2 separate regions of the Homo sapiens genome follow, and region 1 is linked to region 2. The links come from fine-mapping of genetic effects on gene expression. A gene starts in region 2. The other region holds a variant in brackets. All regions are shown on one strand. Distances are between the middles of the regions. Region 1 has its middle 6.2 kb from the start of MAP3K3. Region 2 holds the start of CCDC47 (coiled-coil domain containing 47).

Region 1 (8,824 bases), 160 kb after region 2:
CTACCCAGTTTACTGGAGTTCCTTAACTATAATAATCTCTATTCTTGAAAGCGGGGATAAAGGGGAAAGAAAATTAGTATTTATCAATATAACAGGCACGTCATTGCATTTAATTTTTCCAATAACTCTAAGGTTATTATGCTAATACTGTGGGCATTTAAATGATGAAAGTGAAGCTTAGAGAGGTTAAGCACTGTGTCCAAGTAGTGGAGCCAGGATTCATACCAAGCCTGTGTGACTCCCAAAGGCCATGTTCTTGCACTAGGCCAGTGTTTCTCAACCTTTTTTTCATTATCCACCCCTGCCAGGAAAAAATTTTAATTTAAATTACTTAATTAAATTTAAATTCTCCCTAAGAAGAGAAATTAAATACTAAGGAATAAGATTTTGTCAGGTAGAGTAGAGCCTTTGTAAAAAAAATTTTCTGTAGAGTTGGGGGTGTCCCACCATTTTGCCCAAACTGGTCTCAAACTCCTGGGCTCAAGCAATCCTCCCACCTCAACTTCCCAAATTGCTGGAATTACAGGTGTGAGCTGCCATGCTCCTTTCTGTTTTCCCAATTGCTAAAGCACAGATGCTGCTCGACTTACCATGGGGCCATGTCCAGATAAACCATCAGATGAACAATCGTTAAGTAGAAAATGCATTTAATACACCTGACCTACTGAACATCATAGCTTAGCCAAGCCTATCTTAAGCGTGCTCGAACACTTAAGTTAGCCTACAGTTGGACAAAATTATCTAACACAAAGCCTATTTTATAAGAAAGTTTTGAATAGCTCATGTAATTTACCAAATACTGTACTGAAAATGAAAAACAGAATGGTTGTACTCAAAGCACAGTTTCTACTGAATTGTGTGTTGCTTTTGAACCATCATAACGCCAAAAATCATAAGCTGAGGCCGGGGCACAGTGGCTCACACCTGTAATCCCAGCACTTTGGGAGGCTGAGGCGGGTGGATCACTTGAGGTCAGGAGTTCGAGACCAGCCTGACCAACATGGTAAAACCCTATCTCTACTAAAAATAAAAAATTAGCTGGGCGTGGTAGCGCACACCTGTAATCCCAGCTACTTGGGAGGCTGAGGCAGGACAATTGCTTGAATCCGGGAGACAGAGGTTGCAGTGAGCCAAGATCATGCCATTGCACTCCAGCCTGGGCAACAAAAGCAAAACTCCATCTCAAAAAAAAAAAAAAAAAAAAAAGGTATAAGCCGAACCATAGTAAGTCAGAGACCCTCTGTACAAACCTAGGAGTGTTCCTTGATTATTCTCTCTCCCTGACACCCATATATCCAAACATGCAGCAAATCTTTTCAGCTCCCACTTCAAAATGTATCTGAATCAGGTCGGACGCAGTGGCTCACACCTGTAATCCCAGCGCTTTGGGAGGCCAGGGCAGGTGGATCACCTGAGGTCAGGAGTTCGAAACCAGCTTGGCCAATATGGTGAAACCCCATCTCTATTAAAAATATAAAAATTAGCCAGGTGTGGTGGCCTGTAATCCTAGCTACTTGGAGGCTGAGGCAGGAGAATCGCTTGAACCTAGAAGGCGGAGGTTGCAGTGAGCCGAGATTGTGCCACTGCACTCCAGCCTGAGCAATAGAGTGAAACCCTGTCTCCAAAAAAAATACAATAAAAATACACACACACACACACACACACACACACACACACACACACCTGAATCCAACCACTTCTCATCCCACCCCCCTTATCCAAGCCACCACCTACTCTCCTGAATGACTGCCCCAGACTCCTATCTGGCCTCCATTGTTTCCTCTGTGGCAGCCCAACAAATGATTCCCCAATAGCAACCAGAGTGATCCCTGTAAAATGTAATTCAGATCACGCCACCCTACCCCCTGCCCACTGTCAGCCCTCCAATGGCTTCCCTCCCATCACACTCAGAATAAAACCCCAATTCTTTGTCATGACCTGCCAAGCCCAATAGGAGCTGGCCCCTCCATCCTGTCCCTCCATCACTGTCCTCTAGCTACTCTGGCCTTCTTTCCATTCTTTGAAACTACCAAGCCAAGATGTTCTCATTTCTGCAGTTTATTCAAGTCTCTGCTCAAACGTCTGCTTTTAAGTCATTTCTTATCACCCCATCCAAAATGACCCCTCCCTTCCATCATTCTGTATTTGTATATTTTTTCCTTGTTTTTTTTTCTCAGTGGCTAAAATTATATATTTATTTGTTTGCTCTACTCCAACTACCACAAACATAAGGTATGCAGGAGCAGGAATTTTGTCCTGCTTACTGCTCTATCACCAGCACTTAGAATAGTGCCTCACACATGGAGAACCGCAGTACATCTACCTGAGTCTTTAGCTGAAAACAACCTTCTGATTTACCTTCTACCTTTCTTACAACTGCCTTCTTTGTGGCTTCATTTGCACTGTCGGTGTCTCAACCAGCCATCTCAAACATTCCCATACTGCAGTTACCATATGCGCTGAGGATTCCAGAATCTCAACTGTGTCTCTAGCTCAGGGATGTCTTTCTTCTGAACTCCACAGACATGGGTGTCCCACAGGAACCTCCAATTTTGGGTCCAAACTGAAACCATTTTCCCCCATAGTTCTGTATTTTCTCTGTCCCTCTCCAGTTTCCCAAGTTGGATACCTTCGAATGATCAGATAGCTCTTTCTCTCCATTTCTTTCCCCCACAGCCAGTCTTGAACAAGTCTCCAATCTGTCCATCCCTCTCCCATCCCATTTTACCACCCTAGCTCAAACCACCAAAATCTCTTACCTGCATGACTTAAGCGTAACAGCCTCTCAACATATATTCACATCACAGATTGATCTTTCTGAAATGGACACCTGATTCTGCCATACCCTCCCTAAAAAGTTTCCCATCACCCTTAGGATAAGTCATATATGTGAATGTAGTTAAGAAGGTCCTTCAGGACCCAACCCATACCTTCTTCTTCAGCCACACGTCCTTCTATTTCCACCTTAACTATAATAGTTAACCCCATTATTCAAATTCTATGCCCCAGCCACATAGAACCACCAGCAATTCCTCAAATGTGAATTTCTCTTGCTTCTATACCTCTGCGTGTGCTATGTTCTCTGCATGAAATCCTCTTCGCTTCTGCTTCCACCTCCATTCTTTTTTTTTTTTTTTTTTTTTTTTTTTGAGACGGAGTCTTGCTCTCTCGCCCAGGCTGGAGTGCAGTGACGCAAGCTCCGCCTGCCGGGTTCATGCCATTCTCCTGCCTCAGCCTCCCGAGTAGCTGGGACTACAGGTGCCCGCCACCACGCCTGGCTAATTTTTTGTATTTTTTTTTTAGTAGAGACGGGGTTTCACCGCGTTAGCCAGGATGGTCTCGATCTCCTGACCTCGTGATCTGCCGCCTCGGCCTCCCAAAGTGCTGGGATTACAGGCATGAGCCACCACGCCCAGCCCCCACCTCCATTCTTTCAGGGAAGAGCTAAGCCTATACAGCATTCTCCAGGAAGCCTTCTCAGACAGACAACTCCAAGTCCGGGTTAAGGCCCTCAGACATGCTGTCAGAGCACTGGGTACTTTCTTCATCAAAGCATGTGTCCTGCTAATAATTGTCTTTAACCAAGTATGTATAAAAAGGCCAGGTGTGGTGGCTCATATGTCTATAATCCTAACATTTTAGGAGGCTAATGAGGGAGGATTGCTTGACGCCAGGAGTTTGAGACCAGTCTGGGAAACATAGTTAGACCTCGTCTCTACAAAAAAAATTTAAAATTATCCAGGTATGGTGGCGTGTGCCTGTAGTCCTA[G/C]CTACTCAAGAAGCTGAGGTTGGAGAACTGCTTGAGCTCAGGAGGTAAGGCTACAGTGAGCTATGATCCTATCACTGCACTCCAGCCTAGATGACAGGGCCAGACCCTCAAACAAAACAAAACAAAGCAAAACAAAGCAAAACAAAACAACCAAATTAAGCATAAAGACAGAAGCTGCTTTCAAATCAGCATGCCTCTCATCTTTCATAGCACATTAAAAAACAAATATTTGTCAAATGAGTAAGTGAACCTCAAATGGAGATGTTAGTAACTGAATGTAATTTCCATAATGTTCCCTTTTAGGTATATGCAGTATTTTATCTTCTTTTTTTTTTTTTTTTTGAGACGGAGTCTCGCTCTGTCACCCAGGCTGGAGTGCAGTGGCGTGATCTCGGCTCACTGCAAGCTCTGCCTCCCGGGTTCACACCATTCTCCTGCCTCAGCCTCCCAAGTAGCTGGGACTACAGGCGCCTGCCACCATGCTTGGCTAACTTTTTGTATTTTTAGTAGAGACGGGATTTCACCGTGTTAGCAAGGATGGTCTCAATCTCCTGACCTCATGATCCGCTCACCTTGGCCGCCCAAAGTGCTGGGATTACAGGCATGAGCCACTGTACCCAGCCGAAAATTCTTTTTTGAGACAAGGTCTTGCTGTCCTCCAGACTGGAGTACAGTGGCACAGTCATAGCTTACCACAAGCTCAACCTCCCAGGTTCAAGGGATCCTCCTGTCTCAGTCTCCTCAGTAGCTGATACTACAGGCTCATGGCACCACACCTGACTTTTTATTTTCATTTTATTTTTGAAGACAGAGTCTTACTCCATCACCCAGGCTGGAGTGAAGTGGTGTAATCATAGCTCACTGAAGCCTTGACCTCCTGGGCTCAATCTTTCCACCCCAGCCTCTCAAGTAGCTGGGACTACAGGTGCACACCACCATGCCCTGCTAACTTTTGTATGTTTTGTAGAGACAGGGTTTTGCCATGTTGCCCAGGCTGGTCTTGAACTCTTTCGGCTCAAGCTATCTGCCCGCCTCAGCCTCTTGAAGTGCTGGGATTACAAGTGTGAGCCACCATGCCCGGCCCTAGCATCTTTTTTAAAACAGACAATCCAAATGCCCATTGATAGGAGACTGGTTAAATTATGACACGTTAATACCAAAAAAGTTATGTAGCTATTAAAAAGAATGAAGAGACTTCTCCATACTAATACTAAAAGGTAACCAGGATGTATTGTGAAGTGAAAAAAAAAAGGTTAAAGCAAAGTATATAGCATGATCACTTTTCAGTTTTAAAAAATGCTCATTCAGGCCAGGTGTGGTGGCTTATGCCTGTAATCTCAACACTTTGGGAGGCTGAGGCAGAATTGCTTCAGGCCATGAGTTCAAAACTACGTATCAAGACCCTGATATGCCTGTCCAACATACTGAGACTCCATGTCTATTTAAAAAAAAAAAAAAAAGAAGCTGGCCAGGCAAGGTGGCTCACACCTATAATCCCAGCATTTTGGGAGGTCAAGCTGGGAGGATCACTTGAGCCCAGGAGTTCAAGACTGGCCTGGGCAACATGGCAAGATCCCATATCAATTAAAAAAAAATTTTTTTTTTTTTGAGACAGAGTCTTGCTCTGTGGCCCAGGCTGGAGTGCAGTGGTGCAATCTCACTGCAACCTCTGCCTCCTGGGTTCAAGCAATTCTCCTGCCTCAGCCTCCCGAGTAGCTGGGATTACAGGCAAGCACCACCCAGCCCAGCTAATTTTTGTATTTTAGTAGATGTTGTGTTTCACCATGTTTTCCCTAGGGTGGTCTTGAACTCCTGAGCTCAGGCAATCCACCTGCCTCGGCCTCCCAAAGTGCTAGGATTGCAGGCATTAGCCACCATGCCTGGCCAAAAAAATTTTTTAATGAAAAAAAAAATGCTCATTCACACTTAGAAAAAGGCCAACATTTATTGAACACTTAACTATTGCCAGGTGCTGTTTCAAGTGCTTAACATATATTAACTTAATTCTCAAAACAGCCGCATGTAATCGGTACTATCATTACCCCCATTTTACAGGTAAAGAAGCATGTACAAAGAGGTTAAGTTCTTGTCCAAGGTTGCTAGCTGTTGGCAGAGCTAGAATTTGGTCCCTAGCAGACTGGCTCCAAAGAGTGAAAAAATATAAATCGTTAATGGTGGTTGTATCTTAGGAGGTAGAATTAAATGGGAATTTTGTTGTTGTTGTTGTTGTTATTTATTTATGTAAGATTTGCCTTTTTAAAGACAATAAATGTTACCTTTTGGGCATACACAAAAAATAAAAAGAACAAAGAAGTAAAAATGCTATCCTGTTCACTGGCTGGACATAGAATAATTTCAGTTAAGAGTAGTGTGGCACCAGGCTGATGGCTCATACCTGTAATCCCAGCACTTCAGGAGGCCAAGATGGGAGGATCACTTGAGCCCAGGAGTTCAAGACCAGCCCTGTCAACATAGCAATACCCCATCTCTTCAAAACATAAAATAACCGGGCATGGTGGCATGCAAGGAGGCTGAAGCAGAAGGATTGCTTGAGCCTGAGAGGTTGAGGCTGCAGTGAGCGATGGTTGTGCCACTGCACTCCAGCTTGGCTGACAAAGACCCTGTTACACACACACACACACAAAAAAAAGAAAAGAAAAGAAAGAAAGAAAGGAAAGGAAAAGGAAAAGAAAAAGAGTATTGTGGATCTATCATCGCATTCCCTTTTGCCAGACTTATTTTCTGTGAAGAGAATGTCTCCAGAAGTGTCTTTGGGGATTCAAATAAGTCTGGGAATTGGGGGCTCTTCGAGTTTGAAAATTTATTGACTGCTATAAGTTTCAGAGAAAAAAAAGTAACTCAACCACATGGCTGAATTTCCACAGTTGGTTGGAGGCACAGCCTTTGCTGTTCCTCTTGGATTCAGCCAGGGCCTCTAGCAGAGGGGAGGTGGCTACGCACAAGAGTGCTTCTTATAACAGTCAAGACTGTGAACAGAGCCTATCACAGATACTTCTGTCCCACTAAAAGGACACTTGAAGGTAAGCCCAAGGTGGCTTCAAGACCTTGAATAATTTTATGTTGCTAAGACAATAACCAAAGATAAGGCAAAGCAAGCCAAGCCAGCACTGGACCTCATTCCTCTGACTTTAACATGCATCTGACTCCCAGACTCTCAGATGCTGTGAGACTAGCTTTTGGTTTTTTTTTAATTATGTCACCTGATAAAAGTAAAACATGGGGGCTGGGCACAGTGGCTCACACCTATAATCCCAGCACTTTGGGAGGCTGAGGCAAGAGGATCCCTAGGAGCCAGGAATTCAAAACCAGCCTTACACAGGAAGACCCCATCTCTCTCTCTCTCTTTTTTTTCTTTTTTCGGTGAGACGGAGTCTTGCTCTGTCGCCCAGGCTGGAGTGCAGTGGTGCGATCTTGGCTCACTGCAACTTCCGCCTCCTGGGTTCAAATGACTCTCCTGCCTCAGCTTCCCAAGTAGCTGGGATTACAGGCGCCCGCCACCACGCCCAGCCAATTTTTATATTTTTAGTAGAGACGGGGTTTCACCACATTGGCCAGGCTGGTCTCGAACTCCTGACCTTATGATCCACACACATCGGCCTCCCAAAGTGCTGGGATTACAGGCGTGAGCCACCGCGCCCGGCCGGGAAGACACCATCTCTTAAGAAAAGAAAAGAAAGAAAGAAAAAAGGAAAACATGATTACAGAATATAAAGCTCAGTAATAACATCACTACCCTGAGATAACCTGTTTTGATATTTTAGTACATTTCCTTCTAGTCTTTTTTAAAAAGTTCATATATATAATATGTTAAATAAATATATACATATCTATTTCAAAATTTGGACCACACTATACATGTAGTTTTGTATCTTTTTTCCCACTTAATGTTATATTCTAAACATTTTCTCTGACAAAAGATTCTTTAAAAAATAATTTTTAGTGGCAACATAATACCTTGGCATATGGATGTAACCATCTTTAATGTTTTTTTTTTGAGACGGAGTCTCGCTCTTGTGCCCCAGGCTGGAGTGCAATGGTGTGATCTCGGCTCACTGCAACCTCCACCTCCCGGGTTCAAGTGATTCTCCTGCCTCAGCCTCCTGAGTAGCTGGGACTACAGGCGCCTGCCACCATGCCTGGCTAATTTTTGTATTTTTAGTAGAGACGGGGTTTCACCATGTTGGCCAGGCTAGTCTCGAATTCCTGACCTCAGGTAATCCACCCGCCTCGGCTTCCCAAAGTGCTGGGATTACAAGCGGGAGCCACCGCACCCGGCCGTGACCATCTTTATTTGAATAGCTCAGGGTCTCTTTTCCAGATCTAGAGACAGCAGAACAAATTCAAGAAGGGTTCATTTCTGCCTTTCCTATTAACTGCAGGAGAGAGACTGCAGGGCACCACTAGGGGTCAGTGCAGAGCCATCATCACAGGAGCCTTTACTGTGCCTTACAGTAAGCATGTCTTGATGTAAGATAATTGGTTATGCAACAATCCATATTAATAAAGATTCTATATGCTACATTAGAGATCTATTCACATGACTAGCCATGTTCCCTTTAAGAGCAGACTCCCTTAGTACAGATTTCTCAGATTATAAATAAGATTCCTCCAAATTAATTTCCAAAACAGAGCTATTTTATAAACACCAAGGTCTATCAGTGTAAGACCTGTTCTTTCCTGCTTGGTATGAGATCATTTGTGCATAAAATACTTGGCCAAAGTGTTTTATAGGTTTGTTGGGAAAATCAAATAAATAACATGTAAACGTATCTTACAAATTATGAAGCCACATATAAACGTAAATTTGCTCTTTTTTAATGATAAGCAATTCAGATATTTGGGCAAGTGGCATGACCATGGATTATTTCACTGGTTTTCTTCCTCGTAGCCCTTGCTCTCCAGCTATTGACATCAGTGTGGAGTCAGTAATTCTTTTCTTAGAAGCTGAAGTTATCATTTACAGTAAATTTGGTTTTAGTTCTTTGTCATCCTTATTTACCTGAAGCTCCTTCAGGAAAATTACTCTGAGCTCAG
Region 2 (8,824 bases):
AAAAGCAAGCAAGAGGGTAAGAGGCAAGCTATTGCAGACTTAAGTCAGGCAAGGCCTCTCTGAGATGAATGACATTTGACAGGTAATCCTCCCCTGACTACTGTCCCAAGAATGTCTGTTTTATTGGAAAAGTAATGTGGATGTACATCCAGATGCTTCATCTAAAACCAGCAAATCTTCCATAGTCTATGAGAAGTGATTCTGTTTAGTAAAGCATAAAATGATGAAGTAATAGTGAGACACACAGTGAAAAGAGAAAAGCAAGTTTTACCTCCTTTGGTAGAGTAGCATAGTGTGTGTTAATACCGTGGAACCAGAAAAAGTCTCACAGAAGGGAGGTCAGTATTCAGATGCTTATCGAAAACCCTTTCCAGGTTCTTCCAGAACACACATTTCTGATTATGTCACTCTCCTCAATTCCATAGCTCTCCACAGTTAATCATGCTGGAATGAGACCCTCCATTGTGGCATCAAACTACTTTACCATTCATATTTCCCAGGGTCTCTCCACACGTACTCAGTTTTCCAGGAAAACAAGCACTCTAGTGAATCCTCTTCCCTCTAACTGGATCCCCTTCACATCAAATCTCTTTCCTATAAACTGTGAGTACCTACCAAAGTCCTATCCTTCAAAGCATATCTCAAATACCAACTCCTAAAGACATGAATATGATATCCCCAAAGAAATGGCATCTCCTGGCTGGGCACGGTGGCTCACGCCTGTAATCTCAGCACTTTGGGAGGCCGAGACGGGTGGATCACGAAGTCAGGAGATCGAGACAATCCTGGCTAACATGCTGAAACCCCATCTCTATTAAAGATACAAAAAAATTAGCCAGGCGTGGTGGTGGGCACCTGTAGTCCCAGCTACTCCGGAGGCTGAGGCAGGAGAATCACTTGAACCCGGGAGACGGAGCTTGCAGTGAGCCAAGATCGCGCCACTGCACTCCAGCCTGGGCGACAGAGTGAGACTCCGTCTCAAAAAAAAAAAAAAAGAAAGAAAAAGAAATGGCATCTCCTTCCTCAAACTCCCTTTCCAGTCCAACTCCGTATTATAGGATTCATGGCTGAAGAAACAGGCTTATTCACTTTTCTCTTATAGCATGTTTTCAATATTAGATACTCATTTATTCAATATGTAAAAGACTAAAGGAGATCTACAACTAGGCTGAAGAGAAACAGTCAAGATGGCATCAAGTCCTATTTGGTATGGTTCTAGGCACTAAATCCTATGGCTGGCTGGGCAAGGTGGCTCACACCTGTAATCCTCGCCCTTTGGGAGGCCAAGGTGGGAGGATCACTTAAGGCCACGAGTTTGAGACCAGCCTGGGCAACACAATAAAACCCTGTCTTTACAAAAAAATTTAAAAAATTAGCCAGGCATGGTGGCACACGCCTGTAGTCCTAGCTGCTCAGGAGGCTGAGGCAAGAGGATTGCTTGAACCCAGGAGTTCCAGGTTACAATGAGCTGACTGGACCACTGCACTCCAACCTGGGCAACACAGCAAGACAGTCTCTAAAAAATAAATAAAACACGGTGGTTTCCTAGGAAATCTTAACAGAATAGTAAAGTAGCACAGGCTATGTGTAAACTATCTTTGCTACTAACTTGATATGAACCTCAGGGAAGTTATTTAGCTTCTCTGGGTTCAGTTTCCTCATCTATAAAAAATGGTAAGAGGCTGTGTGTGGTGGCTCACGCCTGTAATCCCAGCACTCTGGGAGGCTGAGGCAGGCGGATTACTTGAGCTCAGGAGTTCAAGACCAGCCTGGGCAACACAGCCAGACACCATCTCAAAAAAAAAAAAAAAAGATGAGACTATCACCTATCTCAAGAGTTGGCGTGAAAAATTAAGTTCATACACAAAAATGTACTTGTTCAATATGTCAGCTACCATCGTGTTTTTCATTATTACATTATTTCTGAAGAACCAATTTCTTCATCGGTAAATTGAGACTATCAGACTTCTTTCAACTCAGGTATTTCATACATAAGCGCCACAAGAACACTGAAGATGTCAGAGATCACCATGAGCTAACAAGCAAGGGCAAGTGTCATAACAGAGTCAGAAGCCAGGCTAGGCACAGAAAGATGAAAGCTGGGTAGAGACGTGCAGACGAAGACATTCCAGGGAGAAAGACTGAACTAGCAAAGGCTAGGAAGTGAGAATAAATGTGGAACACACTTATAAAGGAAGACAATTTAGCTAGTTTGTGTTTTCGGCAATGGCGGAAAATAAGATATGATCTAAATGACTTTAAATATAGTGGACTAAAAACAACTGATTATATAAGCCACATTACTTTATCACTTGTATTTTTGGAGGTGGAAGGAAGAGTTCTAGTGACAGTGATTAGCATCTACTCTACATATACTTTGAGAGTACCTCACACACTATATACAGGTCAGTTCTTTGATGAGAATCTAAATAAAAACTCAAGAACGTAATCACATTCTTCTAAACCAAATACAAGTAAATGCTAGGTTATGGTTATTTTAGAAGCATCCCTTCTCCTGTCAGCTTAAAGCAACTAAGAGCTGATTATATGACTATCAATGTAACAAAACAAATTTAAATAACTGCACTCCTCTCTTATATTAAATTGTTACAATATAAATCAGATATTATCATTCCTCTGATCGAAACCCTCAGATCCTTCCTAAGTAACAGCCTAAAAGGCTTTGGTTGTTCCGCTCACTCCCTTCCCCCAATTCTTCCCTGACCTTATCTCCTAATACTCCCTCAGCTCACAGTGCTCCAAACGCGTTGGTCTTCACACTCTTAACGGGCCAGCTTTGTCCTCCTCAAGGCTTTTATGTTTGTTATTCTCTAGCTTGGAACGTTCCTTTCCCCAGATAAACGTAGGCTCTCACTCCACCTTCTAGTCCGCTTAAATATCAGCTTGTCTGTATGGACTTCCCTGACCACTTTATTGCAAATTCCAACACCACCACCTCCCCAACCCCCTTTCCAGCTTTCTTTTCCCTAAGATACTGATCATCTTCTAACATTCAGTATAATATATGTATCTGTTTGCCTCTCCTCCCGCTACTAGAAAGTTAAGTTCCCCAAAGGCAGGGGTCTAACACCTATCCCTATCACCTAGAACGGCGCTAGAGAATAGGCACCAATAAAAATACCCCTTGAATGAACGAATTGCACATTAGGCTACACAATGCTTCTTCCAGGTACAGGAAGATATATTTTCTTTTCCCAGCTGTCAAAATATAAACATTAATTTTTGTACGAAACACTCATTGCTCACCTCTTATGTGCCAGAAATGAGCTTGGCTCTGCAAAGCGCCTTAAGACATAGTCCCTGCGCTTGAGGAAGTCCTGGGTGTGTATACGAGAGAGGACAGACATAGAAACATCATTGACAAAAAGAAAACACAGGGAAGCCACAAGAAATTGGATAACTGCCTATAGGAGTGGGGGCAAGAGGGAAATTCTCAGTGATGAGAATGTAATTCCCCAAAACTCTCGACAGCTTCTCCTGTTTTTGATGCATATGTTTGCAATTCCATGTAAATTATTTATTCACATCAGATACGCTCTCAAGTAGGCCGCAAAAAAGTTTGTGTGACTACAGTGATGCTAATAATCGACCTACTCAACGCTGCACAAAGATCATCGCCTATATCTTTTCACTCCTCTCATTTGGCAGCTTTTGCCTCTCAGGACCCCAAATTCGGAGGCCTGCATCTCCCAAGCGCTGCCTCCTTGGGTCAGAATTCTCCCCGCGCTATTCCTGCCCTGGAGCCGGGCACCCTGCAAATCCTTTTCCTAGGCGAGGGGGCGCCGCCTCCGGAAAGCCGCCAACTGGGCCTCGGTAAGACTTGTGAGGGAAGCGGGAGCTGTGGGAGGGCGACGCGGCTAGGAAGGAACCCTAGAGGCCTCAGCCCCCACTCCCACCCCTTCCCGGCACCCCGGCCGCCGGTGCCCCGAGGCTCTGCCGACTCTTTGTTAAGCGAGGCCGCGGTTCCTCCGCCCTCGCTAGGCCCAGCAGTTGCCTCCAGTGCCCCCAAGGACTGGCGGCCTTGCGTCCAGAAACCCCACGCACAAACCTGCTGCTATGGCTGCAGCGGCAGCTGCTACAACCGCGGGCGCGGAGCGAATCCCGGAGCCCAAAGTACGCGCTGTCCCGGCCCGGTCCCGCCGCGCTCCTTCCTCTCCGCCCCCTTCGCCGCCGCCGCCGCCACCACCACCACCGCCGCCGCCACCGCCACCACCGCCACCGCCTCACGGCCCGTTGCTGAAGGGGGGAGGGGAACAAAAACGCGACATGCGCAGTGAGGAACGCGCGGGCAGAAGGGCGGGGCCGGGGCTACGGCTCCCGGAAGGCGCCTGACCTTAAAGCTCCAGAACGCCTCACAGGCTCCTCAGATACTCTGACGGGAAACTGCAGTTGGGTGGACAGTGTTCATGACCCATCTAGAAAGTGGGTCTGCGAATGAAGAAAAAGTGGCGTCAAGGGGCTAGCCAAAAATCCCAAGAGAAAACGGGTTGGACAGAAACCATATTTACATGAACATGCCTATAGTTTAAACTGTTGCATATACTACTAGAGCGACACTCTTGCCTCTGGCCACGTGGTCCCACACAGCATGGCCACCTTTAGCTTCCGGAGCACCGGTTCCGTGTGACGTCAACTTGACGGAATCCTAGGTAGGAGGATTGGGATAGGCGAGGGCAGTTCCGGCCCAGGGGCGGGGATTATGTAATTTTCCCAAAAGCCCCACCTCGCCTCAGCCGGGCGGGAGAGAGGGAGGTCTCGCGCTTTCCCCGGGGTTGCGTCCCGCCCCGCAGGCTGCGCGCAGGCGCTGACGAGCCGCTCGCATTCTACGTAACGGACGGCGGAGGCTACGTGAAGAGAGGCGCGGCGTGACTGAGCTACGGTTCTGGCTGCGTCCTAGAGGCATCCGGGGCAGTAAAACCGCTGCGATCGCGGAGGCGGCGGCCAGGCCGAGAGGCAGGCCGGGCAGGGGTGTCGGACGCAGGGCGCTGGGCCGGGTTTCGGCTTCGGCCACAGGTAAGGAGCGGGCCAGGACGCGCTCGTCGGCGTGGCCGGGCCAGGCCGAGCGGTGACTCCGAGTTGCTTGGCCTGTAGCCCGGTCCGGTTGAGATAATTGTAATGGTTTGGGGGAACTTTCCCACGGAGCTGTGAGCAAATGATAGCCAAAAGGGCAGAGTTAGAGGAAATGTACAGTGTGTGCCGGAGGATGACATTAGGATGTATTGATTCTCTTGGGTGGGGAGAAACTAGGCAAAGGGGTTTAATAGAAGCAAAAACCTCTGTGGCCAGTCTCTTCTGGAGGTTTCTAAAATGAAACGTGTTTGTATCCAACACATATAAAGAGACAGAGGAAAGTCTGCATGATTTCCAGAATACTCGTTTTGGCCGTTGTCAGGAAGACCTAATCTAAAATGACAACAAGGAATGATGGCCTCACTCAGTCCTCTTTCCTCAAGTCTAGACTCAGTCGCTGAGGAACTATTGGATGAGCTTGCAGAAAATAATCAAACCAGACTTGTTAGCGCTTGTGTGAATTTTCCTTGGTCCTGTGTTGCTTGCTTCAGGAGTCATAGAGGCTGGGTGGTCTGGCAAGGACTTGTGCATTTGAGAACTGACAGGTGCAGCGGAGACTTCTAAGAGGGAAAACCAAGGTAAAAATGGCTTGGATGATTGTAACCTAAATAACCTTGAAGGATCTCCATTATAGTGCTGAGTTATCTCAGAAGTGTTTCTATGGTGTGAATATTCTAATTGGAAATTCAATTTGAAATGATCGGATCTTTTGGCAGGCTGTTAATCGAGTTGACTGTTCCGGTGTTAACTTTTAGTTGCTTCTATATGAAAAAAAAGTTTTAAGAGTAGGATTTGAAAAGGAGGCTGGGCGCGGTGGCCCACGTCTGTAATCCCAGCACTTTGGGAGGCCGAGACGGGTGGATCACGAGGTCAGGAGATCGAGACCATCCTGGCTAACACAGTGAAACCCCGTCTCTACTAAAAATACAAAAAATTAGCCCTGCGTGGTGGCGAGCGCCTGTAGTCCCAGCTACTTGGGAGGCTGAGGCAGAAGAATGGCGTGAACCCGGGAGGCGGAGCTTGCAGTGAGCCGAGATCGTGCCACTGCACTCCAGCCTGGGTGACAGAGTCAGACTCCGTCTCAAAAAAAAAAAAAAAAAAAAACCCTTGGTACATATCTCCCGTAATACCCACTGCAGCCCTAAGAGGCAAGTAGCAAATGGTATCCCTTTTTTGTATGTGGAGAACAGGGAATTTTAAGTAATTAGGCTAAGGTCATATTGCTGGTAAATGGTAGAGCTGACATTTTATTTTATTATTTATCTATTTTTTTGAGACAGAGTCTCACCCTGTTGCCCAGGCTGGAGTGCAGTGGCGCAATCTTGGCTCACTACAACCTCCATCTCTCGGGTTCAAGCGATTCTCCTGCCTCAGCGTCCCGAGTAGCTGGGATTACAGGTGCCTGCCACCACGCCCGGCTAATTTTTGTATTTTTAGTAGAGGTGGGGTTTCACTATTTTGGCCAAGCTGGTCTCGAACTCCTGACCTCAAATGATCCACCCACCTCGGCCTCCCAAAGTGCTGAGATTACAGACGTGGACCACCACGCCTGGCCTAGAGCTGACATTTTAAACCAAGTCTAATTTCACCAAAGTATGTGCTGTTTTCTATATTTCTTCCACTTTTGACCAAATATCACAACATGAGAACTAGAGGGAAAGCCTAGAAAAACTAGAAGAGAAACTTTAACAGGTAGTAATTTAGAGGACTGAAGACCCTTAGGCCTAGTGGAAGTGGAAAATATACATTCCAGAGTTTAAAAACACTCATTAGTAACTAAAGATGGTTAAAGGAAGCTAGGGATGTTTAGAGACACATCCCATACCTCTTTGAGGCTGGCATTGACAAAGTGGCATGCTTTCCCATAGATTGTCCCTTGATACTAACCTGAAGGATCAACTAGTATAAAAAGAATGTTTAGTTCTCCCTTGATATGTATGGGGGATTGGTTCCAGGACCCCTTGAGAATACCAAAATCCATGGATACTCAAGTCCCTTATATAAAATGGTGTAGTATTTACGTATAACCTATGCACCTCCTACCATATACTTATATATGTATATGTATATACACTATATAATTATCTCTAGATTACTTATAATACCTAATTTAATTGTATTTTTTTTTAACTGTTCTTGCCTCCAAATCTGTTCCATCTGTGGTTGGTTGAATCCACAGATGTGGAACCCATGGGTAGGGCCTACTGTACCGTTGGCCTATCCTTTATGGCATTTCTCAAAATCATTTGTACCTTTCAAATTTTATGAACTTTAATTCTAAGAACATTTAATTTCTTTCTTTCTTTCTTCCTTCCTTCCTTCCTTCCTTCCTTCCTTCCTTTCTTTCTTTCTTTCTTTTTTTTTTTTTTGACACAGTCTCGCTCTGTCACCCAGGCTGGAGTGCAGTGGCATGATCTTGGCTCACTGCAATCTCCGCCTCCCAAGTTTAAGCAATTTTCCTGCCTCAGCCTCCCAAGTAGCTGGGATTACAGGTGTGTGCCACCATGCCTGGCTAATTTTTTGGTATTTTTAGTCGAGACGGGATTTCACCATGTTGACCAGGCTGTTCTCGAACTCCTGACCTCCGCTGATCTGCCCGTATTGGCCTCCCAAAGTGCTGGGATTACAGGTGTGAGCCACTGCGCCCAGCCTTTAAGAGCATTTAATTTCTTGAGCATCCATGGATTGCAAGGCATTCGACAATAACCTTCGATATTAAACTGATTTCTTTAAGAAGTTTCAGTGCTATAAATGAGATTTAGAATATTCTCCATCTCAGAGCACCTTGAAAGAGTAGTACATATTTCCCTTTGCCATACTCTCACTTCCGTTAATACTCAATTGCTTGCATTATGGCTTCCATCCTTATCACTTCCCTGCAGTTGCCAGTAATGATTTCATCATGACCTGGCCCCTGAGGGCCTTTCCAGCCTCCTTTCTCCCACTTGAGTCTACAAACCCAATGTCCTATCATACCAGGCTCCTAAAATATGCTATTTCAGGCCTCCATGCCAAACCTGTTCCGCAGTCTGCAATGCCTCTTCTCTAGTGACAAAAGTACACTACAGAAAAAAAAAAATTAGTCCGGGCACGGTGGCTCATGCCTGTAAATGCCTGTAATCCCAGCACTTTGGGAGGCCGAGGCAGGTGGATCACCTGAGGTCAGGAGTTCGAGACCAACCTGGCCAACATGGTGAAACCCCATCTGTACTTAAACTACAAAAAAAATTAGCCAGGCATGATGGTGAGTGCCTATAACCCAGCTACTCAGGAGGCTGAGACAGAAGAATCGCTTGAACCCAGGAGGCAGAGGTTGCAGTGACCCGAGATCACGCCACTACACTCCAACCTGGGCTACAGAGTGAGACTCTGCCTCAAAAAAAAAAAAAAAAAGAAAGAAAAATAAAGACAAAATATCCAGAATTCTACCATACAAGCTAACTAATATTTGTATGTAAATGTATGTTTTTCTAAACCAAGCTTGTCCAACCCATGGCCTGCAGGCCGCATGTGACCCAGGACAGCTTTGAATGTGGCCTAACACAAATTCGTAAACTTTCTTAAAACATTATGAGATATTTTTTAGCTTATTGGCTATCATTAGTGTTAGTGTATTTTATGTGTGGCCCAAGACAATTATTCTTCTTCCGTTGTGCCTCAGGGAAACCAAAAAATTTGACATCCCTGTTAAACTTTTTTGTTTTCTTTTTCTTTTCTTTTCTTTTCTTTTTTT

Evidence for each region. PIP is the estimated chance that this variant, and not a neighbour inherited with it, causes the effect.
Region 1: its variant is fine-mapped to the expression of CCDC47 in atrial appendage (GTEx, PIP 0.99).

Annotation. Positions count from the first base shown.
Region 1 is chr17:63,611,791-63,620,614 of GRCh38, reverse strand. No RefSeq gene overlaps it. Among named protein-coding and RNA genes, the nearest start is that of MAP3K3, 6.2 kb to the left of the region's middle. The variant G/C (reference allele first, on the strand shown) is at 3,770.
Region 2 is chr17:63,769,622-63,778,445 of GRCh38, reverse strand. CCDC47 (coiled-coil domain containing 47) reads left to right here and starts at 4,849. Exons shown (of 13, transcript NM_020198.3): 1 at 4,849-5,034. It overlaps DDX42 (DEAD-box helicase 42), which reads right to left and starts at 4,276. Exons shown (of 18, transcript NM_203499.3): 1 at 4,070-4,276. RefSeq lists a silencer at 3,948-4,237 and enhancers at 4,368-4,677, 4,390-4,974.